Homo sapiens: one gene and its partners. The protein of the gene in region 1 interacts with the protein of each later gene in a pairwise test. Each region holds a gene or a part of one and is shown in the gene's direction. Other genes may lie near its edges.

What was found.
Region 2: the proteins of RASSF3 (region 1) and ZNF410 interact in binary tests that used the Homo sapiens proteins (3 or more experiments, as listed by UniProt).
Region 3: the proteins of RASSF3 (region 1) and STK3 interact in binary tests that used the Homo sapiens proteins (3 or more experiments, as listed by UniProt).

The regions. Positions count from the first base shown.
Region 1 is NC_000012.12:64,689,868-64,698,354, forward strand, and holds the end of RASSF3 (ras association domain-containing protein 3), read left to right. Parts: intron 1-1,602; coding exon 1,603-1,712; intron 1,713-4,895; coding exon 4,896-5,045; 3' UTR 5,046-7,697; downstream 7,698-8,487.
Region 2 is NC_000014.9:73,889,859-73,896,858, forward strand, and holds part of ZNF410 (zinc finger protein 410), read left to right. Parts: intron 1-2,168; 5' UTR 2,169-2,317; coding exon 2,318-2,350; intron 2,351-3,938; coding exon 3,939-4,074; intron 4,075-4,500; coding exon of another isoform or gene 4,501-4,551; intron 4,552-6,457; coding exon 6,458-6,676; intron 6,677-7,000. UniProt on the Homo sapiens protein: Transcription factor that binds to the sequence motif 5'-CATCCCATAATA-3', and is specifically required to silence expression of fetal hemoglobin in adult erythroid cells.
Region 3 is NC_000008.11:98,542,689-98,549,688, reverse strand, and holds part of STK3 (serine/threonine-protein kinase 3), read left to right. Parts: intron 1-1,527; coding exon 1,528-1,720; intron 1,721-7,000. UniProt on the Homo sapiens protein: Stress-activated, pro-apoptotic kinase which, following caspase-cleavage, enters the nucleus and induces chromatin condensation followed by internucleosomal DNA fragmentation.

The DNA.
Region 1 (8,487 bases):
AGCTCCACCTCCCGGGTTCACGCCATTCTCCTGCCTCAGCCTCCCGAGTAGCTGGGACTTACAGGCGCCCGCCACCACGTCTGGCTAATTTTTTTGTGTTTTTAGTAGAGACGGGATTTCACTGTGTTAGCTAGGATGGTCTCGATCTCCTGACCTTGTGATCCGCCCGCCTCAGCCTCCCAAAGTGCTGGGATTGCAGGTGTGAGCCACCGCGCCTGGCCTCGCTAATTCTTAATTAATCTGTAGAGAGATTTGCTTTTAGAACTCTTGTTTTTATGTTCTTTGGATGGTATATACATTTTTTTTTAAATTTGTTTTTTGTTTGTTTGTTTGAGACGGAGTCTTGCTCTGTTGCCCAGGCTGGTGTGCAGTGGCACAATCTCGGCTCACTGCAACCTCCGCCTCCTGGGTTCCAGTGATTCTCCTGCCTCAGCCTCCCAAGTAGCTACAATTACAAGTGCCCACCACCATGCCCAGCTAACTTTTGTATTTTTAGTAGAGACAGAGTTTCACCATGTTGGTGGCCAGGCTGGTCTCAAACTCCTGACCCCAGGCAATCTGCCTGTCTCGGCCTCCCAAAGTGCTGGGATTACAGGTATGAGCCACCACGCCTGGCCTTGGTTTTTGAGACAGCGTCTTACTCTGTCACCTAGGCTGGAGTACCATGGCATGATCATAGCTCATTGTAACCTTGAACTCCTGGGCTCAAGTGATGCTCTTGCCTCAGCCTCCTAAGTAGCTAGGACTATAGGCGGGCCCCATTATGCCTGGCTAGTTAGAAAAAAAAATTTTTTTTTTTTGGAGACCAGGGTCCTGCTATGTTGCCCTGGCTGGTCTCGAACTCCAGGCCTCAAGTGATCCTCCTGCCTCAGCCTTTAAGTGTTGGGATTACAGGTGCGAGCCACTATGCCTGGCCTATTTTTATTGTTTTTAAAGGAGTAGTGGACCCTTTTTTAGGTTTCTTATCTTGCCTTTTTTTTTTCATTTAAAAAAAATTTTATTTATTTTTTGAGACAGAGTTTCACTCTTGTTGCCCAGGCAGGAGCGCAATGGCACGATCTCGGCTCACTCCAACCTCCACCTCCCAGGTTTGAGTGATTCTCCTGCCTCGGCCTCCCAAGTAGCTGGGATTACAGGTGCCCGCCACCACGCCCGGCTGATTTTTTGTATTTTTAGTAGAGACAGGGTTTTGCCATGTTGGCCAGGCTGGTCTCAAACTGCTGGCCTCAGGTGACCCGCCCACCTCGGCCTCCCAAAGTATTGGGATTACAGGCATGAGCCACCATGCCTGGCTCTTACCTTGTTTTCTAAAAGGAAGAGCAGAGCTAACTATAAGCATATTTTGGGACTAATATCTATTAAAATTTATTCTTGAAAATAATTTCCTTCTTAATCAAGGCACAGTTTATATTTGAACAGAAACAGAATAGATTTTATTCCACTGTGGGCTACTGGTATTAAATAATAAGATGAGCCGACTGGCGACTTAGAGGCTGGGGTAACTTGGATGGTTACCTTGATCTGGAGGAGGGGATCACAATGGGGAAGTGGTCTCAGGAATGGCTGAATACTCTGTAACATGCTGCTTGTTTCTTTACCCAGTCTACGCCTGCAAGCTCTCAGACCGGGAACATCCACTCTACCTGCGTTTGGTAGCAGGGCCCAGAACAGACACACTTAGTTTTGTTCTTCGTGAACATGAAATTGGAGAGGTAAGTTATTGTTCACTATTGCTTTAAACTATACAGAACAGCTGGCCCTATTTTATTGCAGTAGCCTAGTGACTTGGCTATTGATGGGGGATGGGAAGAGAAGAGAGTTGGAGGGCAGGGGGATGGGAAGAGAAGAGAGTTGGAGGGCAGGGAGAGGGAGAGGGATTTTGAATTGTCAGAAATGAACCCAAAGTTAGCCTATGATGTCATTCTCTCACAACCTTATATTATTAGTCTGTCATTTTCAGAGGTGGGAGAAAATAAAGTTTTTTTACTTGATCTCCATCCAGAGAGTCATTTTCACCCCTTCCCACCTCCAAAATACTCCAGTCCAGCTGAACTTTGAAAGTTGACACTCACCATGTGTTTGCTACTAACAAAAGTCTCCAGGCTAATTCCCTTCTAAAGGGATATAAAAGGAAATTCGATCTCTTTACCATGGAAGGCATTTAGCTTTCTAGCATCTTTTTTTTCCCCCTTGCCCAGTCAACTGATTAAGAAATTATGTTTCCATGTGCATCATTTGCCATGTTGTCTCCAGGGAGGATTGTATTTAGCCAGTTCAGTAGAAGAAAAAAAGCACTTGAGCCTGCCCTCTAGATCAAGTGTCAGCTTTAAATGACACTTGAGCAAATCCCAAGCTCCTGTCCCAGTCTTCTGTCTGGAACAGGAAATGGTGTGAAATGTCCTACATGGTGCAATTGAGAATAGGGTTTCTAGGTTAAAAGTTAGGAAACGGCTCTGTTTCCTACTGTTTGTTAGATTAGTAGCATGACCTTGGATAAGTCTTCTAATCTTTTAGCCCTCAGTTTTAAAATCTGTTAAGTGGGACTAAACACTTTACAAGGTGGGCTTTGAGTCACAATTAGAAATGTATACATGTAAGTGAAGGGAGTTTTAGGAAGACAGTGGTTTTACATGTTTTTGAAGTTTCTTTTGATTCTGGTGTTTTGAAGCTTTTCAAGACATTCAGACTCATTTTGGGGAGAAGGCAGGGTGCAGAAATCTGACTTGGCTTTGCAGATGGTGACCATTCCCTCTGCCAGCTTAAGCCAGACACATTAGCATAGTCTACTCAGTGTTTTATTTTTCTTGTACTTAGTGTTTTAAGTAGCAACTAGAACTACATTGGGCAAGAATTTTATTAACTTGGTTATTTTATTGTATTTTAATTATAATTAGAGATAGGGTCTCACTACGTTGCCCAAGCTGGTCTCAAACTCCTGGGCTCAAGCAATCCTCCCACCTCAGCCTCCCAAAGTGCTGGGATTACAGGCATGAGCCACTGCACCTGGCCTTAACTTAGTTTTGAAATTGACTTGACATTGGGTTTTATTGTTCCAGACTGCTGTACTGGACCTCTGTATGGTGTTCTTATTTCTCAGTTATTTAAGGAAAACTGAACTGAGGAAGAAATTTCCATAGCTGTTAGGGGGTGGGAGGGATATTTATATGATGTCTTTATTTTGGAGACTTCAACATAGGTGAAAGATAATCTGTTAAAATTTTAAAAATTAACAGAATATTCTAACGTAGAAGTTTTGCTCTCCTACTCCATGTTGCTCTTTTTTTTTTTTTTTTTTTTAAATAACCAGCCTAAACTGTTCTCCAGGAATTCTTCTACCACTGAGCCCATTTGGTGGATTTACTTATTTTTCACTCTTTGTTTGTATTTGGTTATCTTGAATCTTTTCTCTACACCATCAGACAGCAGTTCTCCACCAGGATCCAGGGCCCCCTTTGGGAGAGGAGGATGTGTTTGGAAAAAACCTCGTAGATGATGCTAGATACCCTCCTTGACATTCACTGCTTCTATTTTTTAAAATCTGTTTTAATTTTTTTTTTTTTCTTTTTAAAGAGACTAGGTCTTGCACTGTCACCCAGGCTGGAGTACAGTGGCGCAATCATGGCTCACTGCAGCCTCAATCTCCCGGGCTCAAGCAATCCTCCTACCTCAGCCTCCCAAGTAACTGGGACTACAGGAATGTACTGCCACAGCCAGATAATTTTTAAATTTTTTGTAGCGACCTGGTGTCACTATTTTGCCCAGGCTGGTCTCGAACTTCTGGTCTTGAACTTCTGGGCTCAAATGATCCTCCTGCCTAAGCATTCCAAAGTGCTAGGATTATAGGCATGAGCCACAATGCCCAGCCTAAAAACTTATTTTGTGCCTGCTAAATAAGTACTAGGAGCTGTTAGGGAAACAAGGCTCAGAGCCTCAAGGCAAGAGATAAACTCCAAATAGCGAGAAGTACGGCAGCTGTGGTGTAGGTAAGGTGCAGGTGAGATAGATATTAAGCAAATAATTGTAATTTAAAAATCTTGGTTGTGATCAGGGGCTCTGTGAAGGCTTTTGATACACTTAGCCTTGGGTGGGAAGAGAGGAGAGGAAGTTGTGGAAAGCTGCTTAGAGAAAGTGGCATTTAAGCTGAGATGGGGAGGATGAGTAGTTCATAGCCAGGCAAAGTGGAGGAGGGGAGAATGCGTGCCACTTGGGCAGAGAGTGAAGCTCGGTGAGAGAGAGATGGGGCCGGAGAGTTTAGAGTCTTTCAGACAGCATCAGCAACTAAGGGAAGCCATTGGATGGTTCTAAGCAGGGGAGAGTCTTGGCCAGATGAGCATTTTACAAAGGATGTTCTGTTTGGGGAACAGATGGGGGAGCATAAGAGCCGAGTGAGGAGGCCAGGTAGGAAGCTGTTCCAGCGATGCAGGAATAGATGATAGTAGCTAGCACCAAGGGGCCGTACCGAGGGAGAAAAGGCTGAATGGAGAACTGTTTGGGGGTGATAAGACTGATTATGCGAGGTAAGAAAGTCAGTTACAATGAGGACTCGAGGTTAAGATGAAAGGACTGTCGAATTGTTTTTAATGCTGTTGGGGGTCAAATCAGGTAAGGAATGAAAGTGTCCAATAGACTTAGGGATATGGAGGTCTCTGGCTTTTAGGGAGATCGTCTTGAACAGTGGGAGGAGAGGGTAGGAAGGTGATTGGTGTGAGCTGAGGTGGGAGTGGGAGTGGAGGGAGCCCTTAGGCTGGCAACACCCCAGCTCTTGCAGACCACACCTTCTGCGGCATGGGGCTGGGAGGGGAGGGCAGCCGCACCTCTGGGAGCTCCTGGTCAGCATTCCTAAGTCTAACTGAGTATTAAACATCTGGCATTTTTCTTTCTGTGTTTCCTGACAGTGGGAAGCCTTCAGCCTTCCAGAACTACAGAATTTCTTGCGCATCTTGGACAAGGAAGAAGATGAACAGCTGCAGAACCTGAAGAGGCGCTACACAGCCTACAGGCAGAAGCTGGAAGAAGCCCTCCGTGAGGTGTGGAAGCCTGATTAAAGCGGGGCTCCCTGCCCGTGAGGCCCGGTGCAGGACCGATGTACAAAACAGCAGCAAGTGCCTCTCTTCTCAGAGGGCTGCTGTCTTGCCCCACTATGCTAGGGTCTTCGCCTTTCTATCTGTAGATTTTGTTCCCCAAACCTGGTCACACAGCATCCTGCACCTTAGCGTCCCATGTAAGGGACTCTGCAAGCTTGTTGTTCAGCACCGCAGTGTTACCTCTTGGCAAGCTGTGAACCTGTCGCCTCATCAGGAGCATTCGAGGGTGCTTGGAAGCATGAACTCTGGGGGTGTTTTTTTTTTTGGTTATTTTAATTATGTGATGATGCTGTTAAGCTTACAGATATGCAGTTGATTTTTTAAAAAGCTTAACTAGGAATCTTTCTGAATACTTGTCCTATTTTGAAACTACCTGTCTGGTTTTTTGTTTGGTTTTGTTTTCTTTTTTTAATGTCAGAGGAATCTATCCATGTGAATCGAAAGGCACAGGAATCTAGGAACTCTGAGGAATTTATTGTGAAGGATTTTGTTAGGGGGTTGACAGAGAAAGCAAAGTGTAAGTTTGGAAGAAGGCATGTGCGGTGGTGGCGAGTGCTGCGGGCTATGGAAGGTGACTTGGCTTTTCAGTTAGGGGTAGTGGAGAAAGGGGTAGTTGCTTGTAAACGAGTTAAAAGCATTCAGTGTGGAGGTGTTAAACCCATTTTAGGATCGCTTGGTTTCCTGGTGGGTAGAATATGGGAACAGAGCCAGAGGCAGGAGCTAAACCAAAAGGAGGGACCCATGAACTCTGCAGCTGACCAATCAGAGAATCAGGCAGGTGTAGCCTACTGACCTGGGCAGAGGTGGGCCTCACGCAGCTGGATCCGACCCTTTAATTCTGCCCTTTTGGAGTGGAAGGTCTGATTGGTGTAGCTGCTCTGCATAGGCAGGACAGTGACAGTTCACTAACTCTTGTTAAGTTACATAGTGTATAGCTTTCCCCCCACAGGTGGTTTTCAAAGTTGAGACGGAATTTGGGTAGGGGCAGCTGTTTTTCCCTTGATTGTTAGCTAGGATATTTGTCAAGTAAACTTTGGTGACAATCACTCTCTTCCCTTTTATTCCTCCTTTCCTTTTCCTTTCTTCCCTTTTTTCTTTCCTTCCCTGCTGTCTCCCACCCTACCTTGTTCTTTTCCTCCCTCCCTCCCTCCCTCCCTCCCTCCCTCCCTCCTTCCCTCCCTCTCTCTCCCTCTCCCTTTCTTTTCTACATTGAAATCTGTTCTTACATAATAGAGAACAGGGCTATTGAATAAAGACCCAATCCTACCAGATCTTTAGTTCTAAAGGGCAACTTGACTGTGAGTAGGAGGGCCCCCAAGAAAGGGAGGAAAGTCCACACCCAGCTAACCACACAACAGGGCTTCATTATGGAAATATTTTAACAAAAGTACATGTTATTACCAACCAAAGAGATGCATGTGCAATAGAAGCCTTCCTTAAAAACAGGCTAAATAACCTCATTTTATGCAGCAGTTTAATCTGAGAACAGAGGGAAAGGTGTGCAGTGGTTCCAGAGGGGCCTTATATTCTATTTTTAGTCTAGATATTTTTTGTTTATAAATTCCCAAGGAATTGTTAACACTTTGGTGACACCTAATGGATTCTTTTTGAAATTCCAAGGTGCTTCAGTTCTTTGCCCAAGTGAACTGTGCCTTTTATTGCATTTCTGTTCGTCTCTTGGTGGCTCTTCTGACTTTTTGGAGAATACCCATCTTGTTGGAGGCAGACTTAAGTTGTTATGCTGTGCCACACAATTTACTGAGACAATCATATCTTCCTAAGCATTTAAGGAAAGTTGAAAAAAATAGAATTAGCTATAAAATATGTATGGCACATCTTGTTTAATTTTGCATGTAACTTCTCTTTTGTACATTGATGAGGTTTTAGTGACATTGTCATCCAACACTTTACCTTTATTGTTCAGGGAATGCCTTCGTGATTTTTTGTACTGGTTTTATTATTCAGACTATGGCCTGGATTTGAGTATATTGTTATTACCACCTGGTTTTTTAATTATTCATCCCAGTAAACTTATATTTTGTGAAGCATTTGTTTCTCAGATTAAGACACTGTTAGAACCTAAAGTAGTAGCTGATGGGTATCTGTGAATTTTTTTTTTTTTTTTTTTTTTACTTGAAGTAGATTGTCTGAATAGGCATCCTCATCTATATTTACCCAAAACCTCGCTTACTGTCATGTGCACTACAAATTGCAATTTGGAAACCTACTGTATTGAAATTCTGTCAGTTTATGGTTCTTGAAGACTGATGTCCTTTCCCAAACACTGGTTACTGCAGCAGCATTTTTAATGTGTAAGTGAAGAAAAAAGGCCACTAAGGCCAAAGATTTTTTAAGAATCATTGTACAAATCATTATGTTAAACTATCTAAGCTTTGCTGTAATACTGTTTTCTCTTCAATATGTGATGGTACAGGAAGGATGTTAAATGAAGGGGTGGTATTGCAGGAGAGCATTTTAAATGGCAGAAGTAAAAAGTTATAATATTTATAATTTTGATGGGTTTAAGTTTATTTTTGTAGGGAAGATTTTTCTCCCCTAAAATAGTTTCTAGAATGGCAAAATTGTTTCCATTATTAAAAATTGAAGTTATTAGTTGTTTATGTGTGTTTATTTATGATAATATGCTAGATTTAAAAAGGTCACAGGAGTGCGCTGAGCTGCTTTTGCACATATACACAGGGACACATGCTGGAATGCAACAACTTTACTAGGTTCGCGTGGGTCATATTTGTTCTCCCAGATATCATTTTCTCTTTGCCTTATCCTCTGAGGAAAAATAACCCTAAGCTCACACAGCATATTCCAATGTATTTAAAACAATTGTTTTAATTTTTGAAATATACACATTTAAAAGTATATAAAGCATGCAAAAGAGGAGGGAGGCCGAGAGTGAAAAAATAAAAATAAAAAAGCATGCGAACAGTTTAAAGGATTATTATATAAAATGGACACCCCCTGACCATTACTAAAATAGAACCTTGTCAGTTCTTTAGAAATCTCTCCCTCCACCCCTGTTCTTGCCCTGAGGTCTCCTACCCCTGAAACATACCACTTCAACATAAAGTGAGTATTTGTATTTTTTTGGTCACCATGACTGCCTTACACAGATGGGATGGATAGTGTCTGGGGAACCACAGGGACGATGGAGTGCCACCCTCTGCGCACCTGCACCTCGGCTTTGTGCCATGGTTTCAGCTTCCATGCCTGCTGTTGGGAGTGTTTTTACTACTACACTGCCCCCTGGAGGGGCTGATGAAAGGAGCAAGGCTGGCACCAGGTGGTAGAGGCCTTTCACGTACCATAGCTGCTCCCTAAATAAAAATACTGTGATAGAAAATTATGGCTCTGTATAATTTTGCTTTTCTACTGAAATATTCAGAGG
Region 2 (7,000 bases), on another chromosome or scaffold:
CGATCTCGGCTCACTGCAATCTCCATCTCCTAGGTCCAAGCGATTCCCCTACCTCAGCCTCCTGAGTAGCTGGGTCTGCAGGCACATGCCACCACACCTAGCTAATTTTTTGTATTTTAGTTGAGACGGAGTTGCACCATGTTGGCCAGGATGGTCTCAATCTCCTGACCTTGTGTTCCGCCTGCCTCGGCCTCCCAAAATGCTGGGATTACAGGCGTGAGCCACTGCTCCCGGCCTAAATGGTTACTTTTTTACAATGAAAAATGAGGATTTCAGGTAGCTTAGAAAGAGAGAGGGAGAAACCAACAGGACAAAAAAACATTTATTCAGTTACTTTTTTTTTTTTTTGAGATGGAGTCTTGCTCTGTCGCCCAGGCTGGAGTACAGTGACGCAGTCTCAGCTCACTGCAACCTCCATCTCTCGGGTTCAAGCGATTCTCCTGCCACAGCCTCCCGAGTAGCTGGGATTACAGGCACCCGCCACATGCCCGGCTAATTTTTGTATTTTTAGTAGAGACGGGGTTTCGCCATATTGGCCAGGCTGGTCTTGAACTCCTGACCTCAGGTGACCCACCCGCCTCGGCCTCCCAAAGTGCTGGGTTTACAGGCGTGAGCCACCGTGCCCAGCCTAAGTGCCCTCTTTGTAAAGTCTGTCTTGTTCTACCTTTCCACACTACCTGGTATTAATTGGAAACTTTAAAGTACCCATTGATTGAAAATATACCCATCCTGGATACATTTTACACTGTATGATTATTTGTAATAGTGCTCCCAATTTTAGTAACAATTGTACAAAATAAAATGGACTCACATTCCAAAATCCTGAAAAGAAACTAAGCTATAAGAAAGTAAGAATTTAAGTTATAGGGAGTGGCTGGGCGCAGTGGCTCACACCTGTAATCTCAGCACTTTGGGAGGCCACGGCAGGCGGATCACCTGAAGTTGGGAGTTCGAGACCAGCCTGACCAACATGGAGAAACCGTCTCTACTAAAAATACAAAATTAGCCAGGTGTGGTGTCTCATGCCTGTAATCCCAGCTACTCCAGGAGTCTGAGGCAGAATTGCTTGAACCTGGGAGGCAGAGGTTGTGGTGAGCTGAGATCGTGCCATTGTGCTCCAGCCTGGGCAACAAGAGCAAAACTCCATCTCTAAATAAATAAATAAAAGAGAGAGAACAGCCGCATCAGGGTCCTGAGAGCACTACCTTTGGGAAACGCTCTTCAAATTTTAACTTTTTTTTTTTTAAATGTAATTTTAAAAATTATCAAAACAATATGGTTGCCTTTTAGAAATATTGGAAAATTGAGAAAAGAAAATTAAGTCACACCAGCCTACCACACGGTATAGCTACGGTCATAGCTGTATGAATCTCCTTTTACTTTTTCTGATGCTTATTATAACTAGTTTTAATAATAGCAAGTATATAATTTTGTATTTTATTTTTATAATTTAACATGTCAGTCACTTGTTGTTGCATTGTCTTCATAGCATTTGTTTGTTGGTTTGTTTTTTGAGATAGAGTCTTGCTCTGTCGCCCAGGCTGGAGTGCAGTGGTCTGACCTTGGCTCACTGCAACCTCCACCTCCTGGGTTCAAGGGATTCTCCTGCCTCAGTCTCCCGAGTAGCTGGGATTACAGGTGCCTGCGACCATGCTCAGCTAATTTTTGTATTTTTAGTAGAGAGGGGGTTTCACTATGTTGGCCAGGCTGGTCTCGAACTATTGACCTCAAGTGATCCACCTGCTTCAGCCTATCAAAGTGCTGGGATTACAGTTGTAAGCCACCACACCCAACCCTTCACAGCATATTTTGAAGTGACAGTGCCATATTTAATCAACCATTCCCTAATTGGGGGTGTGTGTGTGTGTATACATTGCTTCCAGTTGTTTATTACATAGGATAAGACGGACATCTTTGGACATAGCTCTATCCATATTTAAGATAGTTTTTTAGATTATTAGAGGTTGAAATACTGCATCAAAGCGTAGTATTTTTATGGGTTTTGATGCCTGTTGAGCTTGTTGTATTTTAAAAGAAGTGTTTCGGTTTGAATTCTTTATTTGCTTGCTTGTTGTGATTTTTTTTGTATATGTAAAGAAGTGTCTTTATGTACCTGTGTTTTCCCACTGCTCTTAATGCCCCCTCTCTCTTTTTTACCCCTATTCTAGGTTACATTGATTACCCACCTAGTACAACATCTTACGGGAAGAGCATAGTATTTCCTAGAGGAATATGAACATAACAGGAAGGTATCATTGGCTCTGAATTAAATTTGAACTTGTCCCCTGAATAGCTACAGGTTTTGGAAGCTGAATCAATGTTATCAGATGAGTTAGAATCCAAACCAGAGGTGAGCCCAGTCAGCTTGTTTCCTTTTCTTTTGGTGGGCTATATTTCAAAGTTTATCTTCAGTTTAGGGGGTCAGCAAACTTTTTCTTTAATGGGCCAGATAATAAATATTTTAGGTTTTTTAAGCTATATGGTTTTGATTGTTACTATTTTTTCAAAGATTTAAAAATTATATTTTTTGTGATTGTTTTTATATCTGTTTTTCAGTATATGTGAAATCATACATTTAGATAATGTAATAAAATCTTATAAATAAAAATATATGTTTATGTATAAATATATACATAAATATGAGATACATGTGATGTATAGGTGTATAAGTATATAAATATTTACTACTACAAATTCTTTTGTTTATTTTATATATATCTGTAAGTATTTTCTTTCTAAATGTGATTGGGGATTTAAACATTTTTTGTTGTTCACTTTTCTTACTTTAAATTTAGCACATCTGTGTTGCAGAGTGGTCACTGAATTTGGAATCAGATTACTTAAATTTGAGGATTGGCATTGCTCCTAACTAGTCTTGTGACCTTAGACAAGTCACTTAATGTCTTCAATTTTATTCCTCAGCTGTAAAATATGCCTTAAGTTTGGGTGCGGTGGCTCACGCCTGTAATCCCAGCACTTTGGGAGGCCGAGGCAGGTGGATCATGAGGTCAGGAGTTCAAGACCATCCTGCCTAACATGGTGAAACCCTGTCTCTACTAAAAATACAAAAAAAATTAGCTGGGCGTGGTGGCGGGCACCTGTAGTCCCAGCTACTTGGGAGGCTGAGGCAGGAGAATGGCGTGAACCCAGGAGGTGGAGCTTGCAGTGAGCCAAGATCATGCCACTGCACTCCAGCCTGGGCAACAGAGCAAGACTCTGTCTCAAAAAAAAATACATCTTAAATCTTACTGGGTTAATGCGATAATTAAATGAGCCAGTACACAGAAAAGTGTTTTGTAAAATGTAATCAATATGATGCAGTTGATTTTTTTTAAGCCATTATTTTAAAATGTAATTATTTTTATCATTTCTCTGTTTGACAGAAGGTGGCAGAGGTTAACTTAATTACAGTGAAGTGTCACTTAGCGATAGAGATACATTCTGAGAAATATGATGGTAGTTGATATCATTATTATGCGAACATGGTAGAGTATACTTACACAAACCTGTATGGTTTAGCCTGCTACACTCTAGGCTGTATGGTATACCTTATTGCCCCTAGGCTGCAAACCTATACAGCATGTTACTGTACTGAATACTGTAGGCAGTTGAAGCACAGTGGTAAACATTGTGTATCTAAACATATCTAAACGTGGAAAAAGTACAATAAAAATAGGATATTACAATCTCACAGGACCATCATCCTATATGTGGTCTGTTAACTGAAATGTCGTTTTGCAGCACATGACTTTATATAAATCAGCTGTTCTCTAGAACAGAGAACTTGATAAAATAACTTTAGATATTATGTTGTTTAGTTTTTGTTTGAATATGGATGAGACTAGTGAACAGTCTTAATATTATCTTTTGGTAAATTCAAAGGTTTAGATACATTTCTAACAACTCGTATTTCTCAGTGTTGTCTTTTCTCCCCCCAGCTCCTGGTACAGTTTGTTCAGAATACGTCCATCCCATTGGGACAGGGGCTTGTAGAATCAGAAGCTAAAGATATTACTTGCTTGTCCCTCCTTCCCGTGACTGAAGCCTCAGAATGCAGTCGGCTAATGTTACCAGGTAAAAATTAAGATCACTAGAAATAGGATAAAGAAGTCTTAAGAGCTTAGCCTACTCTATGTTACTGGTGGAATGAATATATCGTTTAATAACTGACTGGTGGAAACTGTAAAAATTAGGAGTCATGGAGAAAAAGCAACCATGAAATCATTAGTGCATTGGTAGTTTAAGCCATAGGAATGGATATGATCACCCAGAGAGTGTGAGAGTGGGGAAAAAAGGTCAGTGCAAAACTATGGAACTCTTTATTTAAGGTACAGGGTAGGGCAGGAGAACTTGTAAAGGAGGGAAGAAACAAAGACTAAAATAGTTGGATGAACATCAGCAGAGTGGAGGCATGAAACCCAGGAGAAATCATTGTATCAAATGCTACTGACAGGCCCAGTGAAATAGGGACTAAAAGGACTCCATTATTGACTTTGGCAGAACCTGTTCCATGGAGAGAAGAGGATGGAAAGTCAGGCTGCAGTGACTTGAGTATACATACTTGCTTTTTTTTTTTTTTTTGAGATGGAGTGTCACTCTGTCGCCCAGGCTGGAGTGTAGTGACGCAATCTTGGCTCACTGCAACCTCCGCCTCCCCTCCCAGGTTCAAGCTATTCTCCTGCCTCAGCCTCCTAAGTAGCTGGGATTACAGGTGCGTGCCACTATGCCTGGCTAATTTTTGCATTTTTAGTAGAAACGGGGTTTCACCATGTTGGCCAGGCTGGTCTTGAACTCCTGACCTCCAGTGATCAGTCCGCCTTGGCCTCCCAAAGTGCTGAGATTACAGGCGTGAGCCACTGCGCCAGGCCTATCAATACATACTTTCTAAAGTCTCTCCTGGTACGAGAAGGAAAAAGAGAAGGCGGTAAGATAGAGGGAAATTTTTTGTTTGTGTTAAGATCTGAGATATTTGAGGGTTGCTTTATGCTAAGGGGAAAGAACCAGTTAGAAAAGTTGAAGACAGGCCAGGTGTGGTGGCTCGTGCCTGTAATCCCAGCACATTGGGAGGCTGAGGCAGGAGGATAGCTTGAGCCCAGGAGATTGAGACCAGCCTGGGCAACATGGCGAGACCTCGTCTCTACAAAAAATTAAAAATTAGCTGGGCATGGTGGTGTGCAGCTGTAGTCCCAGCTGAGGTGGGAAGATCACTTGAGCCCAGGAGTTTGAGGCTGCAGTAAGCTGTGATCACACCACTGTACTCCATCCTGGGTGGATAGAGCAACACCCTGTCTAAAAGAAATAGTAATAAATTTAAAAAATATATGTATAAACAAACAATAATTAAGGAAATGAAAACAACAGCGTTCATCTTCCCTTAGAATGACTGTTATCTTAAAGATGGAAGATAACAAGTGTTGGTAAGGATATGGAGAAAAGGGAACCTTTGTACACTGTTGGTGGGAATGTAAGTTAGTACAGCCATTATGGAAACCGTATGGAAGTTCCTCAGAAAACTAAAAATGGAGCCACTATATGACCCAGCAATCTCACTTGTAGGTATATATCCAAAGGAATTGAAATCAGTAAGTCAAAGATGTCTATACTTACATGTTAATTGCAGCATTATTCACAATAACCAAGATATGGAATCAGCTTTAGTGTTCATCAACTAATGAATGCATTTAAAAAAAAATGCATTCACCTTCTTTTCCACATTTCTTTTAGTTTTAATTTTGATTTAAAGTATTTTAGACATACAAGTATAGATAAAAGTAAATGAAAATCCAAATACTTGGCCTCCCAGCTCATAAAACACAATATTACAGGCCGGGCGTGGTGGCTCATGCCTATAATCCCAGCACTTTGGGAGGCCGAGGTGGGTGGATCACTTAAGGTCAGGAGTTTGAGACCAGCCTGGCTGGTGAAACCCTCTCTACTAAAAATGCAAAAGTTAACCAGGTGTGGTGGCACAGAAAAAATAACCGCAGCCTGAGATACAACCATAGGTAAAAAGGTAATGGCAAAAACTGCAATAGCTTTTGCACCAACCTAATACAAAAGTTAAGGAGAGGGAGCTCTCTCCAGGAAAAATAAAATGTAGATCCTATTCTTGAGTTAGTATTCATTGTATAGCTATATTTTTCAAGGAGAAAGTACTGATTTCTGGCCTCAAAAAGGACTAAATTCTGTGATGTCCAAATGTTGAATGGTTGGTTATTCACCAACCATTACTGCCAAGTGACAGAGAATTCTGTTCCTCACGTTTTGGCTGACTGCCTTTGGAACATAAAGCCATCTCTCTGTTCTTCTGTGAGACAAAGTTTTTATTTGTGTAATGAGAATGCTGTCTGTTGCTATAAGGATGTTAGCTTCCAAGAGATGTTGGGTGCTGTGTATCAAAATGGTGGGCTCCTAGAGATAGGTGCTACATAAAGCTGTGGTATTTTCCCTTTACTAGATGATACTACAAATCATTCTAACTCCTCCAAGGAGGTCCCTTCCTCAGCTGTTTTGAGAAGCCTTCGGGTGAATGTGGGTCCAGACGGAGAGGAGACGAGAGCTCAGACTGTACAGAAATCCCCGGAGTTTTTGTCCACTTCAGAGTCTTCTAGCTTGTTGCAAGATCTACAGCCAAGTGATAGCACTTCTTTTATTCTTCTTAACCTAACAAGAGCAGGTATTCTTTCCTTTTTTTTGGGCTCTGCTTATGCCTAAGAAAAAAATTAGGGGTGGGGCATATTTAACTTAGTCATACTTAAAATAGAAAGAACCTTTATTATTTTATTATTTTGGAGAATTGGTGTGTCTGGTGACCATTTGAATATGTAGAGGGAGAGGGAGGACTCTAGTATGACTCATATCTTGTTTGGGAAATTATGTAGTGCCATTTACTGAGATCGCACAGGAAGAGCAAGGCTTGGGGGAGGATGATTAGTTCCAATTTGCACCTATTTATGTTGAGATTTTGGAGGTATATTCAGGAGGACATGTCCTTTAGAGA
Region 3 (7,000 bases), on another chromosome or scaffold:
TAAAGAGCACTTTTAATTTGTACTTTTATTACTGACTTGATTCTTCTGTGAAACATTTAAAAGCTGAGATTTGTCAACAAAAGCAAAAAATTGATAAATCAGACTTCATCAAAATTAAAAACTTACATCAAAAGACGCTATAAATGAAGTAAAAAGCACACAGAATGGGAGAAAATATTTGCAAATTATATCTCTGGTAAGGAATTAATATCCAGAATTTGTAATAACAACAGAAAAACCAAACAACCCATTTTAAAATGGGTAAATGGATATTTCTCCAAAGAAGATATACAAATGGCTAATAAGCGTGCGAAAAGATTGCTCAACATCAGTAGTCATTAGGGAGATGCAGATCAAACTACAATGTGATAACACTTCATGTTCATTAGGATGGCTATTATTTTTTAAAAATGGAAAATAACAAGTGTTGCCAAGGATGTGGAGAAGTTGGAATCCTGTGCATTGCTGGTGGGAGTGTAAAATGGTATAGCCACTGTGGAAAACAGTTTGGGCACTTAAAAAATTAAATATGAAGTTACCATGTGATCCAGCAATTGTACTTCTAGGTAGATACCCAACCAAACTGAAAATAGGGATTCAAACAGATACTTGTAGGTCAGTGTTCACATTAGCACTATTCACAGTAGCCAAAGGTGTCAACAATCCAAATGGCCATCAACAGATAAATAGGGAAACAAAATGTGGTGTATTCATACAATGGAATATCATTCAGCCTTAAAAAGGAATGAAATTTTTCTACCACAATATGCATGAATCTTGAATGCATTAGGCTCAGCAAAATATATTGTATGATTCCACTTACATGAGGTATCTAGAATAGGCAAATTCATAAGTATAATAGTAATTATGAATTAGTACTATGGTATGAATAGTAGTACTCATGAATTTGCCTATTCTAGATACCTCTTGTAAGTACAATAGAGGTTGCCAGGGCTGGGGAAAGGGGGAATGAAGAGTTCTGTAAACATATAATGGTGGTGGTTGCACAACATTGTAAATATACTTAGTGCTACAGAGTTATACACTTAAAAATTGCTAAAATGGTGAATTTTATATATATGTATTTGTATATTTTGCCATAATTTAAAAGAAAAAGCTAATGGCTGTTTTACAAGGTTATAGACATCATTATGCCCATTATAATACAAAGTGTCAATGTGTTCTGTCTTAAAGGTGCTCTCATATATATTTAGTTGTTTTGTCACCATATTCTTTGTTATGCATTTGCTGATAGTTTACCTATCTTAATCCTTATTTTAAAAGCAACTAGCAGCCTTCTACTTCATCAGTTTCTGTTGCTTGATCTGTAATTACCTAAAGCTTTAGGTTATTTTGAATAATTTTCACTCTTAAAATAACATTTGTATGTATGTATTTATATTAAAATCAGTACTAATAGTATTTTTAATAAGTATTAAAACTATAATATATTCATTCTCTTGTTAAGAATTAAGAAATCCAGCTGTCATAGAAAAGTCTTCCCTCATTGCAGTATTTTGCTTGCAGGATGAAGATGAGCTGGATTCCCACACCATGGTGAAGACTAGTGTGGAGAGTGTGGGCACCATGCGGGCCACAAGCACGATGAGTGAAGGGGCCCAGACCATGATTGAACATAATAGCACGATGTTGGAATCCGACTTGGGGACCATGGTGATAAACAGTGAGGATGAGGAAGAAGAAGATGGAACTATGAAAAGTATGTGGCTTTTTTACATTAAATATTAGTTTTCTAATTCGAAAGGATACTTTTATAGGAACCAGGCTAGTTCTGTGTTACTTTTTATAGCCAACTGTGGAAAATTTTGTTTCTTAGATTTATGTAACAGTAAAAAAGAGTATGGCACAAGTCACCTTTTTAAAATTGTATTTTAATATAGCAGAAAACAACACATCTTCAACTTAGAGTTATGGAACTTTTTTCTGTTGAAGGTTGCTAACCCACGGCTTAATTTGCAAAGTATTTTAGAGAGAAAAAGATAGTGTTCCTAACATTTACTTTCCCAATTAAAAAAGTGAACCTAAAATTATCTTCCAGTAAATTCAACAGACTATTATTTTATGTTGTCCAAATTATCAGTTAAACCACAAAGAGCAGTGCGAGCTATGGGAAGAAATAAGGTGGGAAAATAAGAAGCACTAGAAAGAAGGATTAAGAGACAGGGATGCTCATACAGAAGATTCAGTTGCATGAATATTTACTGCTGCTTATCATATGTGAGGCACAGTGCTGGGGGTGCTGCAGTGGCTAAAATGATGATCAAACATTCTCTCTGACCTCTGTTGCTTACAAAGTGATGACAATAGGAATGCTTTCACAGACTAGCACTTCTCTTTTTTAAAAACAGTTTTTTAAGATACTGCAGTTAACATCGTAGGTCATTGTGATTTCACAGTTATAGGCAAAAATGAATTTTCTCTTAGCACCAACTGACCTTTTTCTTCCTGTCATGCTCCTACCCTAGTCCTGTGTGGTTAGTGTCAAAGTCTAAGCAAGCACTAGGCTGCTTTCCACTGAAGAGTATTGCCTCTCCATGGCAGAACAGCAGAATTACATGACTTCTAGCATTGTAGAACCTAGAAAATTGTAAATATTCAAGTGATTTGCTGGTACTGCAAAATGGATACCAGAATTTTCTCTCAGATACTTCCATTTCCTTTTTGCCCACCCTTTTCTTTTTGCTACTCCGCCATGAGGTCTGACCCATAACTTCAAGTCACGTGGCTCAGTACTGCTGCTTTCTTCACATTCCCTAGTTCTGTGTAGCCCACTATGGTTGCATATGTACTTTGGATAGAGAGGATCATGAAGCACAAAATGTAATAGATTGCTATATTGCCATAATCCTGGGGGTGGAGTATGAATTTTCTATCTCCTGCCATTGGTGGGTCTTCTGTGCCTTTTTCCTGGAAAGCAGCCTACATCTTGGATTTCCTGAAATTCCTAGCTGGGCATCTGACTAGAGTAAGTTTTCTGCATCCATAACGTGCCTCACTCCACTGCAGAGGATGGTCTTATGGCCTCCAGAACCAGCTAGTGTTGGGGTACAAGTGGATCACAAAGACTCTGTGGTAAAACAGTTAACACATTTTTCATCAACATGTAATATCAATTTTCCATAAGCTGATATAATTTTTAACTCAAATTTTATGATTCTTAACAGATCAATTAGATCATTGAGTGCTTTTTTGTGTCTTTAGGGAGTTACTGAGCTCCTTATGAAACTATATGAACAACTTTTCATGCAGTCATATAGTTGAACATCAGCATATATATAATAGTTAAGAAAAATGAGTCTTTATAGAATCTAATTCATTTAGATTGCAGTGTATTATATTTCAAGGAAGAGAGACTAATGATGATGTTTCCGACATCATACTTTATACCACAGATTTCTGACATTTTGTATAGTGACTTTTAGATTTGACATCCACAAAAATCAATACATGTTATAATTTTGTTATAACTGATTGTATAGGTATGACTTTTTGTCACAGAGATTTTAGTGAAAACCAATTTTGAAGTTGAACAGATAAGTGGTTTTTATAGCTGCAGTTGTTTTATGGACCTCAGCAAATTTTAAATCCCATGAGCCAACTTTCTGTGTTTTTTGTTTTTACAAGTTAGACATCATTCTGTAATGTGAGACTTCAGTGTTTCCAAAATTCTAATCAAGTGATGTTAGTATAACCCCTAGGGATTGTCATATTGTAGTATAGCAGTAGTAAAGTATGTGAAGAAGTTATTGAGGGAAGACTTACTTTTTCTGAAACCATATAATTATTGTAGTTTTGTTTTTCTCGTGATCTAAATCTTTAAAACTTCTTAAATTAGTTGGTATGAGGTCTCAGCTTATGTCACATCAGTCAAAGCCACATTTGCTAATGTGTCTTTAGCATTTTTGTTCCCTAATAAGATGATAGCAGTATATTATTTTTGGTTTTCTAAAATCTCTACAATGTGTACTGAAGATTTAGAATTTCATCTCTTTTTCCATTGGAGTTTCAAGTGAGTTGCCTGATTTAACATCCTTGTCAGTTTAAATTATGTTTACACTTACTCTTTTATACCTTTAACCATGAAGCTAGAAATTATGGGCCTATTTTCCTTACCTCTAGAAAGGAAAATTACCCACAGACCCTTTGAAGGGAAGTGGAGAAAAATGACAAAAAGTATTTTAAAATTTGATCTGCCTTTTAAAAAATGGACGTGGACCCTATGGGCATGTCCCAAGAATAACTTTCTAAACCTGTTTTTAGCAATGATGGCATTACTTTTACCCTCCCGCTCCCAGTCTTCCTATTCAGATATCCCTAAGGCCTCCTCATTCCCCATGGAATGTCCAGGCTTCAGCTGTGTCACCAAGATCCTTCACAGTCTGGCACTAGCCATTATTTACATGTGGATCTCTACTTCTTCCTTATGGATTATGTTTTATCCATACTAGTCTGTGCCAGTTGGAATTCTGAATGCTTGACACTGGGTAAAAGCAGGTTGGTTGTCATTCAAGAAAATCAATTTAGGATTTATTATCCTGGAGTAGATTAGGACCAGGTCAAGAATCTATGTCATCAAACTGATGGGGTAGGAGAGATTATTTCATCATGGGTGACTCTGGGAGAGTAGTAGCTTCAGCAAAGAAAGACTGGGGCTTTTTAGTTTGTTCAGCTCAGATCTACTCAGTTAGCTCTGTTTTTATGGAGGAACTTTCTGATCTTACAGAGCTGTGGCTAGATTGGTAGCACTAGTTGCCCTGGAGGGAAACTATGTCTTATGGGTATCTGAGGAAGAGCCATATTTTCCAGCCAGGTTTTTATTTTTCATGTGTGTATCTGTTGTTTCTCCAGATAAGTCACGAAGTTTGTCCTGGTAAGAATGCTGTATAAATCTCCTCTGCCACATAATAGTACATGCTCTTGGAATATTGGTTTCATGAATGAATACTAATTACAGTAGAGTCAGAGTCAAGCTGTGTGTGTGTGTGTGTGTGTGTGTGTGTGTGTGTGTGTGTGTGTGTTATAGTAGAATTAAAGATACATAGCTCTGGAAGCTAAGAGAACTTTCAGGTAAACCTCCTGCCTTGGTAAGATACTTTCTTTTCAAGTGTTCTACCATCCCTGCTTCTCATTTCACAGAGCAGACCCTCTGAAAATGTGTTCCTTAAGATACCCATTCAGTGAAATTCTCTGATAAATATAGATAAATAATATACAGTAATCAGAATTATTTGGGAAATGCATATTTATCCTAGAGATAAATTATTAGAGAACTACAGTATATATTATTAACTTATTAAATACAAATAGTACAGGAAGGAAACAGTTTAAAAATTACATTACCCAAACTTTCCTTCACTTATTTGACCATGAAAAGCTTTTAATGAGGAACGTATCAGTGATTAACATCCTGTGTAATAAGCATCTGAGAAACACATTTTGGGAAATGCTATCATGAGAGCCCTCTAGTTCCCTGACCCTAGTTCCTAGTCTGCTTTCTTTTTATTAGCACACCCTCCCTTCACTTCTATATCCAGCTTAGAGGCTATATTTCATTATTTCGTTGCTTCTGCCACTCTCGTATGTTCTAAACTCCTCTTAGAGGCTATATTTCATTATTTCATTGCTTCTGCCACTCTCTTATGTTCTAAACTCCTCTTAGAGGCTATATTTCATTGCTTCTGCCACTCTCTTATATTCTAAACTCCACTGCCCTAATGTCTTGTCTTTTCTGCCTCTCCTGGAAAACTTTGATATGGTCCAGTCTCAGTGTTCATCTTCTCTGCATCTTTACCCTGGCTATTGAGTGCTGCTGGAGATAATCTTCCATCTGCACAGATGAGGGCTGCCAGATCAAGACCTTCTCCCCCATTTGGGCCCTCAACTTTCCTGGAGGCCTGTGTTTCTCTGTTCAGCAATTCCTCATTCTACAGAGTGGCTAGTTTAGATCTTCACTAGATCTCTTCTTCCTGCCTCCCATCTCAGTTTCAGTAGATGACGTTGCTCCCTACTTTACAGAAAAAAAGTGAAATGTTATCATGCAAGTACCTAGAGAAGCTGTATAGGTGTTTTAAATGTGGTCTTTGGAATAAGGTTGAAAAATTGAGTCATTCTTAATTTCCGTTTCTTCCTTCACCCTTCATGGAAGTAACATCTCATCAGTTCTGCCCCCTAAATATCCCTATTCTCTTCTCATGATCTCTGCTTGCATTTCTTTAGTGCAAGTCCTCATAGTTTCTCACTTGTGAGGCTTCTAAACTGATCCTCTGCCTCCAATCTTCATTCCCTCCCCACCATACAGATTTCAGCACATTTCTCTTCTGCTTATGCCCTCCCAGTGACTACCAATTGCTTATAGGCTAAAGCTCAACACCAGTTAAGAAGCAGTATATGCTCTGGTTCCTACTTACCTTTCTATTCCCTCTTCATCCTTCTTCCAGCTTCTCAGCTCTTACAGAGCTTTTTTACCTTTGGCCACTTGCAATGCCTAAATCCTCCTGTGGGATTTATGCTTCTTTTGCTAAATCATATTCATTCACTCAGGCTCAGTTAAGAGGTTGCTTCCTCTATCAACCCCAGGTTAGGAATAAGTGCCCCTCTAATAGGCTCCCATCTCACCCCAAGCTTTCACTCTTACAGCACTGTCATGCTTTATTGTGAGCGTGTGCTTTTGTTTATTTCCCACTGTATTTTTGATACCTAATACAATACCTAGCACTTGGTAAGAGTTCATGAAATGTTTTCTGAACAAATGATGTGGTATAGTGAAGAGCATGGGATGTGAAGCCAAATCATTTAGTAATTGTGTTGCTTAATTCTGTCTGAGTTTCAGTGATAAATATTTGTCTCTCTGTTGTGTGTATATGTGCAGGTGTGTGTATTAGGTAAATTCAAAACATGCCTAGCAGTGTTTTAAATATAGTTGATAATCAATAAAGGATAATATTCATCTGTCCACCCTATTAATTTATCCTTCCAACAA